4 separate regions of the Homo sapiens genome follow, and regions 1, 2 and 4 are each linked to region 3. The links come from fine-mapping of genetic effects on gene expression. A gene starts in region 3. Each other region holds a variant in brackets. All regions are shown on one strand. Distances are between the middles of the regions. Region 1 has its middle 10 kb from the start of GPX7. Region 2 overlaps TUT4 (terminal uridylyl transferase 4). Region 3 holds the start of PRPF38A (pre-mRNA processing factor 38A). Region 4 has its middle 22 kb from the start of TUT4.

Evidence for each region. PIP is the estimated chance that this variant, and not a neighbour inherited with it, causes the effect.
Region 1: its variant is the best candidate, but not a certain one, in a credible set for the expression of PRPF38A in monocytes (Fairfax 2014, PIP 0.70).
Region 2: its variant is the best candidate, but not a certain one, in a credible set for the expression of PRPF38A in whole blood (INTERVAL, PIP 0.55).
Region 4: its variant is the best candidate, but not a certain one, in a credible set for the expression of PRPF38A in atrial appendage (GTEx, PIP 0.90).

The regions. Positions count from the first base shown.
Region 1 is chr1:52,609,664-52,615,498 of GRCh38, reverse strand. No RefSeq gene overlaps it. Among named protein-coding and RNA genes, the nearest start is that of GPX7, 10 kb to the right of the region's middle. The variant G/C (reference allele first, on the strand shown) is at 3,355.
Region 2 is chr1:52,460,445-52,466,279 of GRCh38, reverse strand. TUT4 (terminal uridylyl transferase 4) reads left to right here. Exons shown (of 30, transcript NM_001009881.3): 16 at 1,107-1,210; 17 at 4,511-4,568; 18 at 4,664-4,767; 19 at 5,057-5,146. Among named protein-coding and RNA genes, the nearest start is that of PRPF38A, 59 kb to the right of the region's middle. The variant C/T (reference allele first, on the strand shown) is at 2,613.
Region 3 is chr1:52,402,768-52,408,602 of GRCh38, reverse strand. It overlaps PRPF38A (pre-mRNA processing factor 38A), which reads right to left and starts at 4,001. Exons shown (of 10, transcript NM_032864.4): 1 at 3,724-4,001; 2 at 2,764-2,923; 3 at 1-34. The coding sequence starts at 3,853. It overlaps ORC1 (origin recognition complex subunit 1), which reads left to right and starts at 4,180. Exons shown (of 17, transcript NM_004153.4): 1 at 4,180-4,357. RefSeq lists an enhancer at 3,482-4,681.
Region 4 is chr1:52,572,455-52,578,289 of GRCh38, reverse strand. It overlaps the pseudogene EEF1GP7. Among named protein-coding and RNA genes, the nearest start is that of TUT4, 22 kb to the right of the region's middle. The variant T/C (reference allele first, on the strand shown) is at 2,994.

The sequences.
Region 1 (5,835 bases), 210 kb before region 3:
GTAGCCTGGCCGACATGGCAAAACCTCATCTCTAATAAAAATACAAAAAAGTTGGGCCAGGCACAGTGGCTCACACCCGTAATCCCAGCACTTTGGGAGGCCGAGGCAGGCAGATCAACTGAGGTCAGGAGTTCAAGACCAGACTGACCAACATGGTGAAACCCCATCTCAGCTAAAAATACAAAATTAGCCTGGTGTGGTGGCCCATGCCTGTAATCCCAGCTATTTGAGAGGCTGAGGCAGGAGAATCCGCTTGAACCCAGGAGGCGGAGGTTGCAGTGAGCCAAGATAGCGCCATTGCACTCCAGCCTGGGCAACAAGACTAAAACTACGTCTCAAACAAAAACAAAAACAAGGTAGCTGGGCGTGGTGGCATGTGCTTGTGGTCCCAGCTACTTGGGAGGCTGAGGCATGAGAATCACTTGAACTGGGGAGGCAGAGGTTGCAATGAGCCAAGACTGCACCACTGCACTCTAGCCTGGGCGACAGATCGAGACTCTGTCTCAAAAAAAAAAAAAAAAAAAAATGGACTATCTGCAATGTAATCACTCCAGGGGTGTCCAGGAATCCGTGAAAGCAGGTGGTTAGTAGGGACTCCAGTCTTGGCAATCTTCTCAGCTACCCCTTGGCTGGCTCAGCTAGAGAGCTGGGGAATTTCAGGGCTGCTTGCTTTTCACAGGTGTCTCCGTGGTGACCTGTCCTCCAGGCAGCCCCCAAAGCAGAACAGCCTACTCCTTTTTTTTTTTTTTTTTGAGATGGAGCCTCACTCTTGCCCAGGCTGGAGTGCAGTGGTGAAATCTGGGCTCACTGCAACCTCCGCCTCCCAGGTTAAAGCGATTTTCCTGCCTCAGCCTCCCCAGTAGCTGGGACTACAGGCACAAGCCACTGCCCCCGGTTAATATTTGTATTTTTAGTAGAGACAGGGTTTTGCCATGTTGGTCAGGCTGGTCTCGAACTCCTGAACTCAGGTAATCCACCCTCCTCAGCCTTCCAAAGTGTTGGAATTACAGGCGTGAGCCACTGCATTCAGCTGCAGCCTTCTTCTACCAGTGGTTCAATGACTGCCTCTGCCCCAGGGTTTATTTCTGGCCGTCAGATTTGGGACTCTAAGGAAGATCTTCTTATACCAATAGAAGACAGACGCTTCATGCTAGGCCAGGTCACATCATTTCTCACTTAGATTCCACAAGGCCCTGCATGATCTGGCATCTGCCTACTTCTCTGGTCCTTCTCCTTATCATGTGGCTCCAGGCAGCACTAGCTCTATCATATCAGCCTTTTCCTTCCTTTAGGCTTTTGCCCAAGCCACTCTATCTGCTTAGGACTTCCTTACCATTTTTTCCCTAACTCTTATTAAAATTTCAGCTTTCAGCTTTAATGTCATTCCTCAAGGAAGTCTCTGAATCCCACAATAGGTCAAGTGCCACTTTTATACACACTCACAGCTCCCTGTACTTATCATAATCCCTGTGCTTATCATAATTGTAATCACATAATAATCAGAATAACTATTTGTTTAATGTTTATCTTTTCCACTGTTCTCTAAGAGCCATAGCAGCTGGGAACATGCCCATTTTGTTTGCTGATGTACAGTTAGAACTTAGGGAGAACTTGACAGATATGCAGTGCTCAAGAAACATTTGTTGATGAATGAAAGTCCCTGCCAATCACAACATTCCAGGAAGTCCCCTACAGCCTGGCTCAGAGAAACAAATAAGCAATTAGGATGGGACCTCCTTTTCTCTCAGGACCTGGGGCCAGTTGATGTTGAAAGAGAATCGTTTGGGGGTAAGAGGAGAGCTCAGTAAAAGACAAAGGCCTGTATTTTTCCATATTCAGAAATGACCTCTTCCCCAAACTCCTAACTGATGGTTTCTGACTTGCTAATCTACTCTAAACTCAGCAGAGAGCTAAGGGATCAGGTAACTAAAATATTGATTAAGGCTGGGCGTGGTGGCTCACACCTGTAATCCTAGCACTTTAGGAGGCCAAGGAGAGCAGATCACTTGAGCCCAGGAGTTCAAGACCAGCTTAGGCAACATGGCAAAAACCCATCTCTACAAAAAATACAAAAATTAGCCAGACATGGTGGTGAGCATCTGTGGTCCCAGCTACTCAGGAGGCTGAGGTGGGAGGATTGCCTGAGCCTAGGAGGTTGAGGCTGCAGTGAACTGTGATTGCACCACTGCACTCCAGCCTGGGTGAGAGAGTAAGACCTTGTTAAAAAAAAAAAAAAAAAAAAAGAAAATTTGATTAATAACTAAGACATAGCAAATACTTTTAAACTACTAAATCCTAAGATATAACTGAATAAATAAAGTATTTGGCTTGTAAATAAGGTGTTAGAAGATAACTAAGGTGGTGTTAGTAGATAATCAAATATTAACTACTCAAGTGTTATTTGATAACCAAGGGATTAATTTAAAACCAAGATCTTAGCAGATACTGGTTAACCAATGACTAAGGTGACTGTTGATAAGGATTTAAAGTAACTTTTTCCTAGGGGACTCTTGCATGTATTAGAGGGGGGTTGGGAACAGCAGAAGCTGATAAAGTCCACAGAAACACAGGGCTAATTGGGAGCGTAAGGTCCTCAGACGGACTCTAAATTTCTGAGGAAATGGGCTTGCTCATCTTTGGTTTCCAGATAGGGCTTAGGCAGGAGCAGGCATGGAGTTGGTACTCCAAAGGCTTATGACATAATTTAATTTCATCTATTAAGGGCCTAGCACTGTGCTCAGGAGAGGGAAGGGAGGGCAGTTTCTTAAGTGATGGGAATAGAGTGTGATAAGTAAGTGGTGTGTGAAAGAGAAAGCTCCAGGGGCTGCCAAGGCAGAATGGAAGGGAGAGCAGATGTGTTGGGGAAAGATGAGGGTGAATTTAGTTCTGGCCATGTTGAATTGAGGTATCTGTAGAGATGCCCAGGAGGCAGGTGGATGGGAGTCCTGCATGGATATAGAGATTTGGGTGTCAGCAGGGTGTAGATGGTGGTCAAAACCATGGGAAAAAATGAGCTGGCTACAGAACGGTATATGGGGTGAGAAACTAGATCAGACTAGAACCCCATGGAAGACCAACAGGGAAGGGGTGGATAGAGAAGGGAGAGACATTGACACTGAGAACGAAGGAACACTTAGAGAGATGGGGGAAACTAAGAGAAGACAGAGGAACGCCAAGGACCGAGCAAGTGCCAGGGAGAAGAGCAGAGTCTGCAGTGTCACATGCAGCTGAGAGGTCAAGGAAGACAAGGTGAGAGATATTCATTGGCTTTAACGATAAGGCACTAAGTGATGGCCTTGGTGGGCACAGTGAGGGGAGGCATACATACGGGTGGTGGAGACAGTGGGTATGGAG[G/C]GAGGAAGGTAGCTGCAGGAGACTGTGGTTCCCAGATGTCCAGTGTGAACATGTGTGCAAGCTGGGCTTCACTGTGTGTGTGTGCATGCACACAAGTACATGCAGAGCTGCAGCTAAGAGGAGGGTGTGTAAGGGCAGCTGAGAGGCCACCATAGGAGGGGCTGTGGTCACCCCATGGACAGCCTTCACTTTACTTTTGTTAGCTTTTGAGAAGCACCATGAAGGGAGACTGTGAAAATCCTAAGCACGGTTTAACCCTTTCATTGTCCAGTGAGAAAACGGAGGACAGGAGAGAGGGAAGAATTTGCTGTGAGTCAGGGGCACAACAGGAACTTGAATCTGAGTCTCCAGACTTCTAGAAGAGTGACCTTAGATAAAGTACACCTGAAATTCTTATTGGCCAATGAATTATCTACCAGTGACTCTGCCCATCACCCCATTTTTTTTATAGTATTTTGGTCTGTTGCTCAGGTTGGAGTGCAGTGGCGTGATCATAGCTCACTGCAGCCTCAAACTCCCAGGCTCCAGTGACTCTCCTCACTCAGCCTCCTGAGTAGCTGGGACTATAGGTGTGCACCATCACACCTGGCTAATTTTTTGATTTTTTGTAGAGATGAAGTCTCACTGTGTTTCCCAGGCTGCACCCCAATTTTTAGCCACCTTTCCACATTTATATAAAGGTGAAATATGGATTTGACATACAAAATTCAAACATTACAGAAACTTAATGAAAATGACTCCTGTTATCCTACCTCAGCCCCTCGCAGACAACCACCATTAAGAGTTTGGTCTATATTTTTCCCTCTCTCTTTCCCTCCCACTTAACATTGTAAATTTTTTAAAAATTTGGGACAGGGTCCACTCCCATTGCCCAGGCTGGAGTACAGTGGCGCAAACACGGCTCACTGCAGCCTCAACCTCCTGGGCTCAAACAATCCTCCTGCCTCAGCCTCCTGAGTAGCTGGGACTACAGGTGTGAGTGACCACGCCTGGCTAATTTTTAAATTTTTTTGCAGAGACACGGTCTTGCCATGTTGCCCAGACTGGTCTTGAACTCCTGGGCTCAAGCAATCCTCCCACCTCTGCCTCCCAAAGTGCTGGGATTACAGGCGTGAGCCACCTAATGCACCCAGCAACATTGTACATTTTTAATAAAAACATTACACTTGTTCATACTGGTTTTTCTGGGTATGTGAATGTGTTCATTCTGTTTTACAACTTATCATTTTTTCACTTTTGGACAACTTTCTATGGTAGCATATGGAGACTTCATTCATTCATTTTAATAACCATATTAGTTTATAATTTGAGGCAAGGTCTCCTCTGTCACCCAGGCTGAGTGCAGTGGCATGGTTACGGTTCGCTGCAGCCTTGACCTCCCAGGCTCTAGCAATTCTCTCACCTCAGCCTCCTGATAGCTGGGACTACAGGCATGCACTGCCATGGCCAGCTAATATTTTTTTGTAGAGGTGGGGTCCCACTATGTTGCATGGTGGCGTGTGCCTGCAGTCCTAGTTACTCAGGAGGCTAAGGATGCAGTAAGCTACGATCGAGCCACTCTTCTTCAGCCTGGGCAACAGAGTGTGACCCTGTCTCAAAACAAAAAGCAAAAACAAAAGGTATGAGCATTTTGTTTTAAAAGATATTGCCAAATCACCCTCCAAACACTTGTGCCAGTTTATCGTACCACAGTTTATGTGAATGCCCATTTCCTCACATCCCTGCCAACCAGGGGTATTATCATTAAAAAAATATCTTTCGGCCGGGAATAGTGGCTCACGCCTGTAATCCCAGCACTTTGGGAGGCCGAGGCGGGCGGATCACTGGGTCAGGAGATTGAGACCATCCTGGCTAACATGATGAAACCCCGCCTCTACTAAAAATACAAAAAAAAAAAAATTAGCTGAGCGTGGTGGTGGGCGCCTGTAGTCCCAGCTACTCGGGAGGCTGAGGCAGAATGGCGTGAACTTGGGAGGCAGAGCTTGCAGTGAGCCGAGACTGTGCCACTGCACTCCAGCCTGGGTGACAGAGCTAGACTCCATCACAAAAACAAAACAAACAAACAAAAAACTTTCCAACTTCAATGAGGCTGGACATCTTTTTGTATCCTTATTACGCATCTATAGTCTTCCGTGAACTATCTATTCATCTCCTTTGCCTATTTGTTATTGAGGTGTACTTTTGGCTAGTGGATTACTCAGTGAATTTTTTTTTTTTTTGAGACAGAGTCTCTCTCTGCTGCCCAGGCTAGAATGCAGTGGCGTTATCTCCGCTCACAGCAACCTCTGCCTCCCGGATTCAAGCGATTCTCCTGCCTCAGCCTCCAGAGTAGCTGGGATTACAGGCACCTGCCATCATGCCCGACTAATTTTTATATTTTTGTAGAGACGGGGTTTCACCATGTTGGCCAGGCTGGTCTCAAACTCCTGACCTCAGGTGATCCACCCGCCTCAGCCTCCCAAAGTGCTGGGATTACAGGCA
Region 2 (5,835 bases), 58 kb before region 3:
TGGTTGGCTTCCTGAAGCGCTGGGATTATAGGAGTATATAAAGTATTGACCAAATCTAAGTCTCTATTATATAAAATCATGCTCAGTTTTATTTGCTGATGAGTATAGCTTCTTTTTTGCCTCTCAGCTATCATTGAAATTTCAAGTAGAGCATCAGAACTGGATGGGGGTATGAAGTTTTGAAAGTATAAAGTGTCCTATAAATGTGTAGTCTACTTTAGAATTAATAGGAAGAGCCAGGCCCAGTGGCACACACCTGTTATCTCAGCCACTTGGGAGGTTGAGGTGGGAGTATTGCTTGAGGCAAGGAGTTCAAGACTGTAGTGTATAATGATTGTGCCTGTGAATAGCCAGTGCACTCTAGCCTGGGCAATATAGCAAGACCCTGTCTCTAAAAAAAAAAAAGTAATAGGAAGAAAAATCCAATTCTGTTAAACCACAGCTTATTTGAAATGGTAGCTGTTATTGGATGACACTGAGTCTGAAGGGTTAACCCTATCATAATTTATATCAAGTGGACTATAATCACTCATTTTTGGAAGAGCATCGTATACTAAGGTGATATTTGTAAACCTACATGAATTGTGCTTTGAAAGAACTAATTTATTTTTAAGAGGGCAGTCCTCAAATATTGATCTTAACTATTGGTAGTGATGTTGAGAATGTATAAAAGCAGATGGATTTATTATGTAAGTCGGAAAAAGCTAAAAGTCTCAATGATTGTTTGGATGTGGACATTGAGAGACAGATATTAAGGATTGCACCTGTATTTCTGATGTGGGCATCTGTGTACATGATGGTACTATTTGCTAAGAACAGGGATAATAGAAATAGTAATAGATTTGGGGCAAAGTTGATAGTTCAGACGTGTTGAATGTATGATGTCTGTGGAAAATTGGAAAAAGCAGTTGGGTACATGGGTATGGGAACTTGGGCAAAAGCTTGGGCTCAAGATGTTTTGGAATTTCTCAGTATTTCTTCCAGTGGTAGGTAATTTAAATCATAGAAATGGACAAGAGCATGTTGTATTAGGTCATCAGCAGATAGCAGAAGACTCCTCCTCTCTGCTTATAATAAGGCCTTGGACTTTGTTTTCCTTTGCTTAGAAAAGGCAAGGTTGTGCTTATTTGGCTCTTCTAAGAATGGATTTGGATTTCGTGATAGTGATCTGGATATTTGTATGACCCTGGAAGGCCATGAAAATGCAGAGGTAAGAGTGTTTGGAAAGCGTTATGTAAGTTTATTTTCTCCCAATGACGATTCTATGTTTATTTTTGTATGTGATATTGATAAAAATGTGGTATCACTCTTTGTATAAATATATTAGCAAAATAAGTGTTTGAAATATGAAAACAGTAGCATTTTCAGTTTAGAAGACATTGAACTCTTAAGTAAAAGTGTTTCAGTAATTTTATGATACAAAAACCATGTCACTGAGAGTTACAGTGATTTGTAATGAATTTTGGGAAAAAATATATCACGAAGTTGGAATTTTTTCACTAGAACCAATGGGAAGCTGATGCATCAGTTTTGTAGTGAACATTGATCTTTCATACTTTGTCTTCTCATATCTCTTTCATTAGATGATGTCTTTGTGTTACTATAGGTAGTAAATATAGGTGGTCATCTAATTTATAATTGGTTTTGTTCTAAAAGTTAGTTATAATTTTTGACCACTCACATAAAATTTTTTCCATAGAAGCAATGTTACAGATGATATGCTAAGGGCTGGGCGTGGTAGCTCATGCCTGTAATCCCAGCACTTTGGGAGGCCAAGGTGGGCGGATCATGAGGTCAAGAGATCAAGACACTCCTGGCCAACATGGTGAAACCCCGTCTCTACGAAAAATAAAAAAAATTAGCTGGGCATGGTGGCACGCGCCTGTAGTCCCAGCTACTCAGGAGGCTGAGGCAGGAGAATCGCTTGAACCCAGGAGGCGGAGGTTGCAGTGAGCCGAGGTCACGCCACTGCACTCCAGCCTGGTGACAGAGTGAGACTCCGTCTCAGAAAATTAAAAAAAAAATAAATAAATAAAATGCTAAGATAGCTTTTAGAAACTCATTTTGGGCGGGGAGGAGAACTAACATTTATTGAGTTCCCAGTATACACTTTTACATACATTATCTCATTTCATTCTTACAACCACCTTCGAGGTAGGTATTATTTCCCCCATTTTACAGATGAGGAAACTGAGGCTTTGAAAGATAAACTGACTTGTCCAAGTTCACACAGCTAGTAATTGTTGGAGCCGGGATTCGTAACCCAGGTCTGTCTGACTCCAGAGTTCATGCTCTTTCCATTGTATCTCACTGCCTCTCTGTAATTTTTTTAACCCATAATGTAGCTGAAATATAGTACTAATAGTACTGTAGAACCTAACCACTGCTTTCTGAAACTGATAGCTTTCTGAGTTCCACCGTGAGATGCCAGGAGCAGACCTTCCCCAAGTGCAATTTCAGCAGTAAGAGTGGGTACTTACGCTTTCCTTTTTTGTATACCAGGCCTTAATAGTGGGAAGGAGATTGTCCAAGCTCCAGGGAAGAAAAAGACTGATTGGACAGGGAAGAAGTGTCCCAGGCCTTCTCAACAGCAACTAGCAAAGGAGGGTATC[C/T]TTGTAGATGTTCAGTCCTTTACCAGCCTAGCTATTGTTATTTATGTTTCAAAATGCGGGACTGTTTGCAAGATTGGGGTGAGGCCCAGCTTCTGGCATCTGTAGTGGTGTCAGTATCGCCTCTGTTACATTATAAAAGAATTCAGCAGAATAGTGTGCTTTTCTAAAATCATTCTTTTGAACGGTGGTTTTGAAATTGTTAGACCCGGAGTAAAGATGGCAGTGATGACTTAACTTCTGGCCATAAGAAGTTGCTTCTGGTGTCTTAACATCTTGTTTTATAAAGAAACTGAAAAGTTGCAAGTATTTTATTTGTTCTCCTTTACTTAAATTCTGCTTAGAGCCACCTACTTGGAAAGTGGCTGCCCTTCTCCATTCTGAAGAGTAAGAATTGAGGGAATAGGAAATGATTTTTATACCCAGGAAAGAGGTTAGAGTTTTAGATATCTTCTATGTAAAATTTATTAAACTTCTAATCACTAAGGGTTTGTATATTATATATAATCTGTGCCATTCCTACTGGGAAGTTGAAACAATGAAAATAATAAATCATTTTCTTTCAGATGAGCCATAATTGAAACTTTTAAGATTAGCATAATTGTATCGTTGAATAATAAAGAGAAAAATTACCTCCTTTGTTAATTTTATCATATGTGAATTAGTAACTAATGGTTTCTTTGAAATCCTTTGGTTTAGCTGCAATGGCTCCTGCTCTCATGTAGCTAAAAAGAACATGTTGGAAAAATGCAAATGACTTTATAACTCTTGGGATTGATGTTTATACCCTTCAGCTATTTCCAGTTAATTTTTAATGCCATAATCATTATGTATTATGATTATCATTACCATACCAACTCTGCTGTCTCTGGTTTTTACAAGAGTAACACATTTAAATTTACAGAGGTAAGAATTTCCTTGGAGAAATAGGTGCTGGTGATAATAGGAGTATCTTTCTTTTCCATATCAACATAATTATAATAAATAACTCACAGATTTAAAGGCTTATTTTGTGCCAGGCATTCTGCTGAGTGCTTTACATACATGTCTCATGTAATCCTCCCAACAGCTCTGCAGGACAGGAGTTTATGATTATCTTGATTTTATAGAATAGTAATGTAATGCTCAGAGAGGTTAAACATCTGGTTAGTCACACAGCTAATCAATACTTAGTTTAAGATTTGAGACTGGGTGCAGTGGCTCACGCCTGTAATCCCAGCACTTTGGGAGGCTGAGGCGGGCGGATCACGAGGTCAGGAGATCGAGACCATCCTGGTGAACACGGTGAAACCTGGTCTCTACTAAAAATACAAAAAAATTAGCCGGGCACGGTGGCGGGTGCCTGTAGTCCCAGCAACTCGGGAGGCTGAGACAGGAGAATGGCATGAACCCGGGAGGCAGAGCTTGCAGTGAGCCGAGATAGCACCACTGCACTCCGGCCTGGGCGAAAGAGCAAGACTCCGTCTCAAAAAAAGAAAAAAAAAAAAAAAAAAAAGATTTGAATCCAGGTTTGTCTCAATTTGGAGCCTATGTACTTAATCAGTATATTGTTTTGCCCTCACCAAACTCACCTCTAGTTGTTTATTCACTTATTGAAAACCATATTCTTCTCCTGTCTTTGTGCTTCTCAAACTTTAATCTGCATGTGAATTACCTTGGGATCCTGTTAAAATGCAGATTATGATTTAGTAGACTGGGGAGGGTCCTCAGATTCTGCATTTCTATCAAGTTTCCAGATTATGCTGATACTGTAGGTCTATGAATCACTTACTTGGAGTAGCAAGGTTATTATAGAGCTTTATGGCTGGAAATTGTAAATGCTACTATTAAATGCTTAGATTAAAGTAGAATTTGCACAAGGTGAAATTGAGTCAAACTTATTTATTTGATTTGTTTTTTAGAAATTAAATTGTAAGGAAATAATTGAAAATTTGGCAAAAATTCTTAAGAGACATCCAGGTATGAATTTTGAATCTTATCTGTAAAACAAAATAAATTTTTTTAGCATATATGAAAATTATTTAACCTACTGAAGTCTTTTTTTTTTAAATTAGGTTTAAGAAACATTTTGCCTATAACTACTGCCAAAGTGCCTATAGTAAAATTTGAACACAGGCGAAGTGGGTTAGAAGGCGATATCAGTTTATATAATACGTTGGTAAGTTTATCTTTATAGGCCATGTATATACTTTTCATTTTAAAAGTTTACAGATTACTGACTCTATGTTTAAAACTTTCAAATGTGAACAGTATAAGGAAAAAGTATTTTACTAGTTATCTTGATAGTTCCTTCAGATTGAAGGTCAGTTTTTGTTTGACTCATTAATAGGTGTTTTACATTTTACATTTATATATTTTGTATTTGGAGTGTATTTTACTTTTAAATCTGATTTGTAGTTTAATTTTACGAAATTTGAAATCCTTTCAAATATGTAATTATTTTTCAGGCTCAACATAACACAAGAATGCTAGCTACTTATGCAGCTATTGATCCTAGAGTGCAGTATTTGGGATATACTATGAAAGTGTTTGCTAAGGTATTTATGAAAAAATTAATGATCTGCTTTGTTCATGATAATTAAAATGAAACATAACTAATGTCAGATTTGTGAAAAATTTTGTCTCAGTTTTGTTTATCTGAGCTTTTAAAAAAGAAACTTTCAGTATTATATAGCTTGAATAGATACCTATCAGAGTAGGGTGGCTCTGTCTTTTTTTCCTGTATGTATTCTATTCCCATGTGCAACTGACTAGTCAGTTTCTCAGCAGTAACATTTCTCAATGCAGTGATTTTAGCCCCAGGCATGGGAGTTGGCATATCATCCTAGTTAAGAATTTCTGAGTTAAGAAATCTTATATTTGAGTTTAGTGATAAGTTTTTCTGACCCAGAAAACAAAACAATACCAATAATACCTTACGCTTCTCCTATTATAACACTTGTTATGACATTGAATTTAGTTTTCTCATTCTTTTGCTAATTGTGTAAACTAGGTGAGAACAGGAACCTCTGTTTCTCTAGTTCATTGTAGTGCCTGCTTTGTGGTAGCTGCTCAGTGGAATGATTAATTTTATTAATGTGTTAGTGGAAGAGTTTTAGTAGGGGAGAAAGTTGGTCAGATTTTCATTTCATAAAGCTTCCTCTTTCTAATAGGAAGGCTATTGTTGTTGTTGTTGTTGTTCCTGTTGTTGAGATGGAGTCTCACTCTGTCACCCAGGCTGGAGTGC
Region 3 (5,835 bases):
CCTCATGTAAAGTGCCCCCAGCATGCGGACATACCTGAGAGACAGATGACAGTGAAACAACAGGCCATCCTAGAAGTTCCTGAGTTTTACAACTAGCTGTTCTCATGACAGTAGTGGATAAACATGTTCTTCTCTTTGGCAGGTAAGAAAGCTGCAATTGTGGAGGTAGAATGCAGCAGAAGAAAGACAGCTAAAATATGGAGACCTGAGTTCAAGTTCCCATGCTACCATTTATGGCTGTGGGAACATCATACATATTGATCAACTTTCAAATATATCATCAGTAAAACTAGAATAAAACCTATTTACCTCACAGGATTACTCTAAGAATCAAAAGAAATACTGAATTTTATTTTATTTTTTAAGGCAGAGTCTTGCTCTGTTGCCCAGGCTGCAGTGCAGTGGCACGATCTTGGCTCACTGCAACCTCCGCCTCCTGGGATCAAGCAATTCTCATGCCTCAGCCTCCATGTAGCGAGGATTACAGGCGCCCGCCACCATGCCCAGCTAATTTTTGTATTTTTATTTATGTATTTATTTATTTCTTGAGACAGAATCTTGCTCTGTTGCCCAGGCTGGAGTGCAGTGGCACGATCTCAATTCACTGCAGCCTCCACCTCCTGGGTTCAAGCGATTCTCCTGCCTCAGCCTCCCAAGTAGCTGGGATTATAGGCATGTGCCAACACACCCAGCCTAATTTTTGTATTTTTAGTAGGGACCGGTTTTGCCATGTTGGCCAGGCTAGTCTCAAACTCCTGACCTCAGGTGATCTGCCTGCCTTGGCCTCCCAAAGTGCTGGGATTACAGGTGTTAGCAACCATGCCTGGCATATTTTTGTATTTTTAGTAGAGACGGGGTTTCCCCATGTTGGCCAGGCTGGTCTTGAACTCCTGACCTCAAGCAATCCACCTGCCTTGGCCTCCCAAAGTGCTGGGATTACAGGTGTGAGCCACCACACCTGGCCATATATTGAATTTTAAAACAGAAAGAAGATATATTTAATAACAATACAAGAACAAGTACACATAAACATGACTGCTGGTTTTGGAAAAAAGTAAGTCATCTGGGTTCAAATTCTGACTCCGTAATTTACTAAGTCTGTGACACTACTGGTCAAATCATGTGTTTTCTCAATCCTTGTAAAACGGAGATAATGCTACCTAATTTATGGCTTGGTATATAAACAAGAAATGCATTGAAAGTGCTAAGTATAGCACAGAGCACACAGTAAGTGCCTAACAAAAGTTAGGTATTTTCTAGCTGTTAATGCTTTATTAGAGTCGTTCCAGCCAGGGGCGGTGGCTCACGCCTCTAATCCCAGCACTTTGGGAGGCGAGGCAGGTGGGTCACCGGGTCAGGAGATCGGGACCATCCTGGCTAACGCGGTGAAATGCCGTCTCTAGTAAAAATACAAAAAATTAGCCGGGTGTAGTGGTGGGCGCCTGTAGTCCCAGCTACTTGGGAGGCTGAGGCAGGAGAATGGCATGAACCCAGGAGGCCGAGCTTGCAGTGAGCCGAGACTGCGCCACTGCACTCCAGCCTGGGCAACAGAGCGAGACTCTGTCTCAAACAAAAAAAAGAGTTGTTCCTCTTCCCTTTTTCCTATATCTAACTACTTAAATTTCCTCTTGGGTAACTAGGAGGCTTTTGAAAGTCATAGTTTCTTTGTACGAGAAGCAGAATACTGTAGCAAAGAATATGAACTCTGAAGCCAGATTTGCCACTTACTAGCTGTTTGAACTTGGGCAAAATTAATTAATCTCTGTGCCTCAGTTTCCTCTCCTGTAGAATAGGGATTAAAAGTTTAGAAGGTTGTTGTGAAAGTGAAATGAATTATTATATGCAAAGCCCTTACAGCATGGCACATAAGAAGCTATTATGTCTGTCTCCTATACTTGTTTGTGATTTCCTCGAGAATCGGTAATACGGTAATAAGCTGACATTTTCTAGGTGTTTACCATGCAGCAAGTGCTGTGTTCAGAGATCTGCATGCATTACGTTCTTTCACTCTTATATTATAGTCACCATTTTACAGATAAGCAAAGTTTAGAAAATTAAGTAACCTCTCCAATGTCATAGTTAATGGGCAACAGAATCTGGATGTGAACCCAGATCTTACACCTCTTAACCACCACCTTTTGTTGTTTGATTTTCACCCCTGAGCGTCCAGTGCCTACCAACATATCAGGCACTCACTTTTGCTTAATATGTATTTAGTGAATCTGTGAAATCCTTTTTCAGGGAAAAATTACCAAAACTGAGAAAGTAAAGTAGAAGATTAATACAATCAGAACAGATAAAATACAAACTTGGCAGGGTGTGGTGGCTCATGCCTGTAATCCCAGCACTCTGGGAGGCCCGGGGGGGGAGGGGATTACCTGAAGTCTGGAGTTCGAGACCAGCCTGGCCAACATGGTGAAACCCCATCTCTACTAAAAATACAAAAATTAGCCAGGCGTGATGGCACATGCCTGTAATCCCAGCTACTCGGGAGGCTGAGACAGGAGAATCACTTGAACCCAGGAAATGGGGGTTGCAGTGGGCCGAGATCGCACCACTGCACTCCAGCCTGGGCAACACAGAGAGACTCTGTTTCCAAAACAAAAAACAAACAAAAAATACAAACTCAAGGGCTCAAAAGCAAAAATCTGGAGTGGAACTCTCTAGAAATGAGATACATTGTGTACACCCCTCTTAACCAAAGCCCAATTCTAAACCGCCAAAATTAAACCTCTTATATTAGCTAGTGAACATTGCACTCACTTGAAATCTTCATTTTTGATAAACTCTACAATGATATCCTTCTCGGGTTGAATTTGAAGCATCTTCAAGGTTAAACACAGAAAGGGTGTTGGTTTTATGTTGCCACCATAGACGCCACCCACAAACCTTAACTCCATGGCTTTATCGACTACAAGTTCAGCTAAAAAACAAAAACAATACAGTAACATATTAGGGCTAAGCTCTTCCTAGTTGGAGTGGAGTTAGTTCAAGCTTTGGTTCTCCTAAATATACATCAACAGTGTAATATTAGGAGAACGAATGTGTATTAATAACAGTAACGACAACAGCTAATATACATTGAGAATGGATAATAAAATAGGTACCCTGCTAAGCTTTTCATATTATCTCACTTAACCTTTTTTAACAAGTCATGAAGAAAGTTCTAGCAATGTTCTTATTTCCAGGTAAGGAAAATGAGGGCTAAGAAAGGTAAAGTGACTTGCTCAAGGTCCACAGATTGTCACAGGACATGGATTTAAAGCCACAATTCAAATCGGAAGATTACCTGGAAGACTTCTCTGAAGCACTGATATTTATAAATACTGGAACCGGCCCAGATCTAAGAATAGTAAGATCATGAATTTGGTTTCAGGCATATTAACGTTAGGTCCTTAAAGACCTTCAACAGATTGTGTCAAAGTGTTATATCCGGATCCCTGAGCTTAACACTGTTGCAACCCAGCCTGCTATCATTAAATACGGAATAACTCACAACACCCAACTGAGACAGCCTTCAGAATATGACCTTACCAGATTCATCTGTGCCTCTAATACTCAACACAAGACGAGGCACTTAGCAGGCACTCAAAATTTTTCTGAATGATCGACATACTCCGTTCCAGTACCACCCCCAGAGGCCAGTCGCTAGTCCTACCCGCGCTCGGTCAGGAGAAATGGGCCACAAGGGGGCTGAGAGGCGCTCCGCGCGCTTCCACTTACCTGTAAGTCCAAAGCACTCCTCTTTCCAGTACTTGGACTCATAGATTCGCGTTCGAATGATCTTCTCCACCAGATATTGAGGGTTGGTGCCATGGATGCTGTGCGCATCCTTCACTGTACGGTTAGCCATTTTAGAATGCCTTCAATTCTATTTCCGTCGGATCCTTTAATGCCTCACATCCAGGTTCAGAAAAAGCACCTAGAGGAATGGAGAAAGGTGGAAGAAGTTTCACTAAACAGCTTAGGCGACCATCTTGAAGCCGGAAACACCGTAGTGTAAAGGGCTTCCGCTCCCCGCGTCGCCTATCGAATCAATGATGGCGGCTGCATGTTAGCGGATGTACGTCATGCGCCCCTCTTAGGTGTACGGAGTGGGCGGGGCGAGCTAGTTGGTGTCGCAACGAAGGGACGGTCTGGGGGCGGGGCCACGCCGATTGGCGCGAAGTTTTCTTTTCTCCTTCCACCTTCTTTTCATTTCTAGTGAGACACACGCTTTGGTCCTGGCTTTCGGCCCGTAGTTGTAGAAGGAGCCCTGCTGGTGCAGGTTAGAGGTGCCGCATCCCCCGGAGCTCTCGAAGTGGAGGCGGTAGGAAACGGAGGGCTTGCGGCTAGCCGGAGGAAGCTTTGGAGCCGGGTGAGTGTGGCGTCCAGCGGGCTGCGAGGGACTCGGGGGAGGGCGCATCGGAACCTCTGAAACTGAGGACGTTCTCTGTAGACTCAGTCATTGATTCTTTTAGCTGACATGTACCAAGCGCCTGTTCAGTGCCAGGCACTGTTCTGAACTGTTAAGAGCGTTCCTCTGTTCCACACTCCGATTCCTAAAAGGCTTCCCGCGCTGCAGGGAACTGAGTTTGCAGGGGGGAAGGCGGAAGCCAACAGCCTAGAAGCAGGAGCATTCCTGCCCTCCGCACCCTGATGCTCAGTGATGACTTTCCCTCCATCTGCATTTGTAAAGCACTCTACTTGTTTCGTTCTTTGAGCTATAGTGTAGGAACCACTACAGGGAAGGCGGAGCAGAGGTTATTACCCCATTTTACGGACGTAAATTGCGCCCAGGGAGGGACGTGTCTTAGGTCGCTTTTCGTGACTAAGCAGTCTGGGCTCCTACCCAGATCTTTTTTTCAGATGAGCTCCTAACTGCTGGGCTGTCTGTCATTCACCTTCTTTTCAGAAGAGAAGTCTGGTGGCCCCCTTCCTACTTCTCTTTTCTAACCCCGGAATTGAAGAGTCTTCTGCTGTGACAGTTGGAAAAGGCATTCTTATCCTGATCTATTTGTGAAACTGCAATGATTATATACGATTCTAGTTGTCTGTAACACATGAATAATAGTACCCTCGTCTCTGCTGTGTTAGGTGGGCTGGAAATGCCAAAGGAGTTTCCAATATGACAGAATGGTTTAAGTCCCTTTGCAACAGTTTTTAACTTTAATGGAGGGCAATATGTGGACTTTAGGAGGTTTGTGAATCTGCCGAAATTGAATGCAAAATTTTGCTTGAATTATGTTAGTTCCATAGTATTCATCAAATGATACTTAATAAATAAAACCACTGTACCTTACAAATAAATGCAAGGGATTAAGGTAGTGGGAAAGTGGATTTACCATTTTGCATTTTTTCACTTAATCTTCCATTATCCTAAAATAGTGCCTGGCACACGATGGGTACTTAATAAATATTGGTTGAATAAACGGAAGATTCTATTTTCTCCATTTTGTGGGTAAGCAAATTGAGGCCCAATCCACAATGTTCAGTCAGTGGCTGGGAAGCCTGATTTATTGTAATAAGTACACCAAAAGCAAGCTCTCAGTTACATATTAACATTATCCAGTTTCACACAGTGTGTTGTAAGGTGAAGTAGTTAAGAGCACAGTAATTGCAGTCTGGCTTTTCCGGGTTTGAGTTAAGGCTGTGCCATCCTGTATAAGATAGGATAAGTTATCACCTTGAAGTGATAATAACATCTACTTTTCTTTTTTTTATTTTGAGACAGAGTTCTGCTCTGTCACCCAGACTAGAGTGCAGTGTTGCGATCTCGGCTCACTGCAGCCTCCACCTCCCGGGTTCAAGTGATTTGCCTGCCACCATGCCCACCTGATTTTTGTATTTTTAGTA
Region 4 (5,835 bases), 170 kb before region 3:
GTGGATGGGAAGTGCTTCTAGTACTAAATCACTACATGGTGATTCACTGATTTGATTAGTCTATTTTTTTTTTTTTTTTTGAGACAGTCTCACTCCGTCATCCAGGCTAGAGTGCAGTAGCATGATCTTGGCTCACTGCAACCTTCGCCTCCCAGGTTCAGCTGAGACTACAGGTGTGTACCACTATGCCCAGCTAATTTTTTTTTTTTTTTTTTGTATTTTTAGTAGAGATGGGGTTTCACCATGTTGGCCAGGCTGGTGTCAAACTCCTGACCTCAAGTGATCTGCCCACCTTGGCCTCCCAAAGGGCTGGGATTACAGGCATAAGCCACTGCACCTGGCCCTAGTTTGATTTAATGATTTTAATTAATTCCAATCTACCACGATACCACACAGAGATTGCTGAAAACCGAGCCACTAAAATCATACTTAAAAACACATAGTAGCACTTTATTCATTTTTTCAGTAACTTATTCAAAATAATTTTTATTGAGCATCTGTCTTATATGCTCTAGTCCAAGTGCTGAATTATGAAACTTACTATCTAAAGGACAGAGAATGAGTAAGTATTTACAAGTATGATAAATGACACCAAAGAAAAATATAAGGCATTAAAGGCCATATAATAGGAAGGTCTAATTGTGTCTTCAGGTCAAAGAAAGCTTCCTTCAGAAGTAATGTTTAAGCTGAAAGCTGAGTAGAAGTTAGTTAGATAAGCGCTGGGAAATGGGTGGGAAGACAATGGAAGTCGGCATGTGTGAAGGCCTAGAGGCTTTAAGCAGCCAAATTTTGTCCAGGGAACTGAAGGGTGTTTAATATTGACTGAAGCACAGAGTATGGGACGCAAGAAGAAACAGAGCTTGTTGGAGGTCAGTTCATTTAGGACTTTGTGGTCATGCTGGAGTATTCACAGATCCTCTGGGCCTGGCTTTGTTCTCAGTATGAGGAATACATAGAATCGAATCAGATCTTAATGCTCTTTAATCCAAGGCCTTAAATAGCTCACAATCAGGTAGGATAGACACATTTTGACAATGGTAGTGCAGCATGATAAATATGATAATAAAGAACTGATTTTCATGGGAATTTATAGGAGTGATAATTAAGAAATAACATTATTCCATCAATTGCCTTTTAAGTTATTTCACATTGCTTCCAAATTCTTACTAAACAAGCCAATTGTAAGACTAAGTTTAGATTAATGTTACTTTTAGACACACAGAAAAATGATTTAGCCATTTAGGCTAAAAAGCAATTTCTATTACAGTTCTTGCTCTTGCTTTTTGCCTCTATACTACATCTTTCTTTTTCTTTTTTTTTTTTTTTTTGAGATGGAGTCTCACTCTGTGGTCCAGGTTGGAGTGTAGTGGTGTGATCTCGGCTCACTACAACCTCTGCCTCCCAGCTTCAAGCAATTCTCGTGCCTCAGCCTCCTGAGTAGCTGGGACTACAGGCATGTGCCACCACGCCCGGCTAATTTTTGTATTTTTCATAGAGATGGGATTTTACCACGTTGGCCAGGCTGGTCTCGAACTCCTGACTTCAGTGATCCGTCCACCTCGGCCTCCCAAAGTGTTGGGATTATAGGCATAAGCCACTGCGCCTGGCTAATACTACTTCTTTCTTTTCAACTCTCACTTATCCTTTAAGACTCTGGTGAGCTTTCCCCCTTCCACTTTACCTCAAGTAGAGTTAGAAATCTTTCCCTCTATGTCCCTGAAGGACCCTGGGATCTCTATTATAGCACTTATCACAATATACTACAAGTGTTTATTTTCCTGTATCCCCTCTAGGCTTTTATTTCCCCCAATAGAGTTCTGTATTTTTTTATTTTTTAAGAAAAAGGGTCTTGCTCTATTGCCCAGACTGGGGTGCAGGGGCACAATCATAGCTTACTGTAATTACTCATGGGCTCAAGAGATCCTCCCACCTCAGCCCCCTGAATAGCTAAGACTACAACCACACACCACCATGCCAGCTAATTTATTTATTTTTGTAGAGATGGGGTCTTGCTATGTTGCCCAGGCTGGTCTTGAACCTTTGGCCTCAAGTGATCCTCTTGCCTGGGCCTCCCAAAGCACTGGGATTATAGGAATGAATAGTGCCTGGCCTCCCACTAGACTTAAGCATAGAGATTTTGTCTTGCTCATGCTTCAATCTGTCATTCGATAAATATGTGTCAGGTACCTACTATATGCCAGACATCAGGCTAGGTGCTGCAGATTCAGTGACGACCTGGATAGACTCAGTTCTTGCTCTTGTAGAGCTTATAGTCTAGTGCAGAAGGTTGACAAGCAAATGGGCAAGAAGAGTATGTATGAAAAATGTTATGATGAGGAAAGTGTCAAGTGCCATGGGAAGCCCAGAGCAGGTGTACCTAACTTTCTTTAGGGGGCAAATGGAAGTCTTTCAGAAGGAAGCAATTTAAGCTGAGAATTGAAGAAAAAGTACAAGTTAGTTAGTCAATGTGGCAGTCATGGGTCAGAGGTGGGAGAGAGCACAACACATTCCAGAAACTGAAAGAGGACTGGGCACGGTGGCTCATGCCTATAATCCCAACACTTTGGGAGGCTGAAGTGGGAGGATTGCTTGAGTCCAGGAGTTTGAGACCAGCCTGGGCAACATAGCTAGATTTTATCTCTCCAAAAACATATTAAAAATTAGCCAGGTGTGATGATGGGCACCTGAAGTCCTACGTACTCAGGCTGGAGGCTGGAGGCTGAGGCAGGAGGCTCATTTGAGCCCAGGAGTTCCAGGCTACAGTGAACTATGATCATGCCACTACTCTCCAACCTGAGTGACAGGGTGAGACCCTGTCTCCAGCAAAACAAAACAAAGAAATTCACAGAGCAGTCGAGGTTAGGGGCAAGCAGTGAAGATTGTGTGAAGTGGGGTGTGGCCGGGGTGAGGAAAACAGAGATTGGTGTTTAGTGTGATAATTATACACATAGAAAACTCTATGTAAAGTGTTTGTTAAATGAATGGATGAGCCA[T/C]TCCAAAACCTGAGAAAGAAAGACATTTGGGAAAAGCAAATTTGTTTGTGATTGTTCATTCCTTTGTTCACTGGGAGGCATTGTAGTGTGTTGGCTAAAAGTCTGGACTCACACCAACTGCTTGGGTTTGAATCCTGGCTTTGACAGTTAATAGCTGAGTGACCTTAGACAAATTACATAACTTTTCTATGTGCCATTTTCCTCATCTGTAAGAGAGAAATGATAATAATTCATAGAATTGTCATGAAGATTAAACAAGTTAATAATATTTGTAAAGCACTTGGAATAATGCCTAGAATTAAGCACTGACTGTTTGCTATTATTATTCCTCCATTCATTGAAACATTTATTGAGGGCCAAGTACCATGCTAGGTGCTGTGAAAATATGTGGCTTCAGCCATGGAGGAGGACCATAAAATCTGGTGAGGGAGAAGATTCATAAATAAGCAATTACAACACAATGTGATCAAGTGAGGCGATAGTGGTAAATCCTGCAGAACTGAACAAGACAGAGTGACTCATTCTCTCCAAAGAAGCCAAGGGAAGCTTCAGAGAGAAGAATGTATTTAAGTTGGGTGACGCAGAATGAACAGAGTTTGGCAGCAGACAAAAGCAGTATGGTTTATCAGGCCAAGGAAGCACCATGTTGCAAAGGTTTAGTAGGATGCAAGTCTAAGGCATGTTTAGGAAATGGCAAGGGGGTCTTGAGCACCTGTTATGTGCCAGGGTCTGTGCTAGGCACTTTTTATATGTTCTTTCACTTTCCATAAGAACTTAAGAGGTGAGAATTATGGTCTACATTTTTTATGAGAAGGTGATCTGAAAGATTGAGAGACTTGCTCAAGATCGTGGAAAGCAGTGGGTCTAAATTTGAATCCAAATCTATGTGACTCTAAGGTCTGTGTTCTTTGAGGAAAGGATGGGGCCTGACAATGACCTTGTGAAGTTTTTAGTGTAGCTAAAAGTACAATACTTTTATTTATTCCTTTATTTTTTAGAGTGAGGGTCTTACGCTATTTCCCAGGCTGGAGTGCAGTGGCGCAGTCATAGCTCACTGCAGCCTCAAACTCCTGGGCTCAAGCGAGCCTCCTATCTCATCCTCCCGAGTAGCTACGACTATAGGCATGCATCACCATGCCCAGCTAATTTTTAATATTTTTTTGTAGAGACAGAATCTTGTTTTGCTGCCTAGGCTTGTGTTGAACTCCTGGCCTCAAGCAATCCTTCCTCCTTGGCCTTCCAAAGTGCTGGGATTACAGGTGTGAGCCACCACTCCCGGCCCAATATTTTTATTTTAAATTTTAATAATGTTGGATGGCAATCTTGTTAAGTAGGCACTTGGTATTTCTCAGTCGTCATAAATGGAAAAAACTGACCTTAAATTAAACTTTTTTTTTTTCAATATTCAGTTTCTTTTAATGATCCCCATCTCCTTAAAGAACAGGTACAGGAAGCAAGGCAATGGCAAGAGCTGTTTACTTGAAGATCTTGCCCTGACTGAAGTTAGCCCACATGCTGGAAGGCCCTTTTCCAGGAACAGTACTCACAAACCAGTGTCTGGGTCTCCTTGCTGCCAGGATCCAGTTTCTGCCACGTGTATGACTCGAAGACCACCTGCCAATCTGGACTCAGTGTCAAGGCCTGTGAAGACCCAGGCTCCAGAAATGGAGCTGATATTGTTGCTTCCAAAGAGGATGGCACTGGCAAAGGCATTCTTTCTCAGTTTGTTCAACTGCTGGAACATTCCAGCGATGAGATTGCAACTCCAGAAGGTCTGGGTGAGCTTCTCAGGAAAGCAATACTCAGACCAACCATCCTTATCAGAGTGCTCCCGAAAATACGGCAGCACCACATTGTGTCCTTATAGGAGTACTTGTGCTTAAATTCATCCATCACAAAGGTACTCGGGCAAGTGAGCAAAGGGGTCTTGGCTATCCGATGCTCAGCAGCCAGTGCCTGCTCACATTCATCCATCTCCTCAGGAGCAGGGTCAGCCGCCTTTTTCTCCTTTCTGTTCAGCCTAGGGCTTCTGCTTTTCTTCCCGTGAACTTTTCTCCTGTGGGGTGTCCTTTTTAGGCCTGCTCTCTGCAAATATTTTAGCATCAAATAGGGCCATTTTCTCCTATCATTTTACTTCCCCCAAGACAGCCTGGAACTGGGGCTGGTTAATGCAGGTGAGAAAGTTAGTATCATGACCACTATTTGTGATTCTGTGATGTTCTGTGTTAATATCCTGAGGGTTTGTTAGGGGATTTCCCTTTTATACGTGTGTTTCCCAAATTGTCTTTTGAGGAGCCCTGGGGTGCCCTAGCTAACTGAGGGCTCTAGAGGATATTTTGACATTTTAGGAGAAATACAAGCTGGGCGCAGTGCCTCATGCCTGTAATCCCAGCACTTTGGGAGACCCAGGAGGGTGCATCACTTGAGGCTAGGAGTTCCAGACCAGCCTAGACAACAAGGCAAAATCCCGTCTCTACAAAAATCAGTTGGGCATGTTGGCGCACACCTGTAACTCCAGCTACTTGGGAGGCCAAGGCATGAGAATGGTTTGAACCTAGAAGGTAGAGGTTGTAGTGAGCTGTAATCGCGCCACTGCACTCCAGCCTGGGTGAGACAGCGAGACTCCATGTTAAAGAGAGAGGGAGAAGGGAGAGGGGAGAAGGGAGAGGGGAGAGGGGAGAGGGAGATTCAATATATGTCTGATACCACACAAGCTTGAGTTCAAGGTTTAAACATGTCTCTGGATGATGTCATGTCTTTTTGAAGCTGAGTTTTCAGAGGTTGCTGTAATAAAAAGCAAGTACCAAGTGAAAATCACTGTGGAACAATAAATGACTGTAGC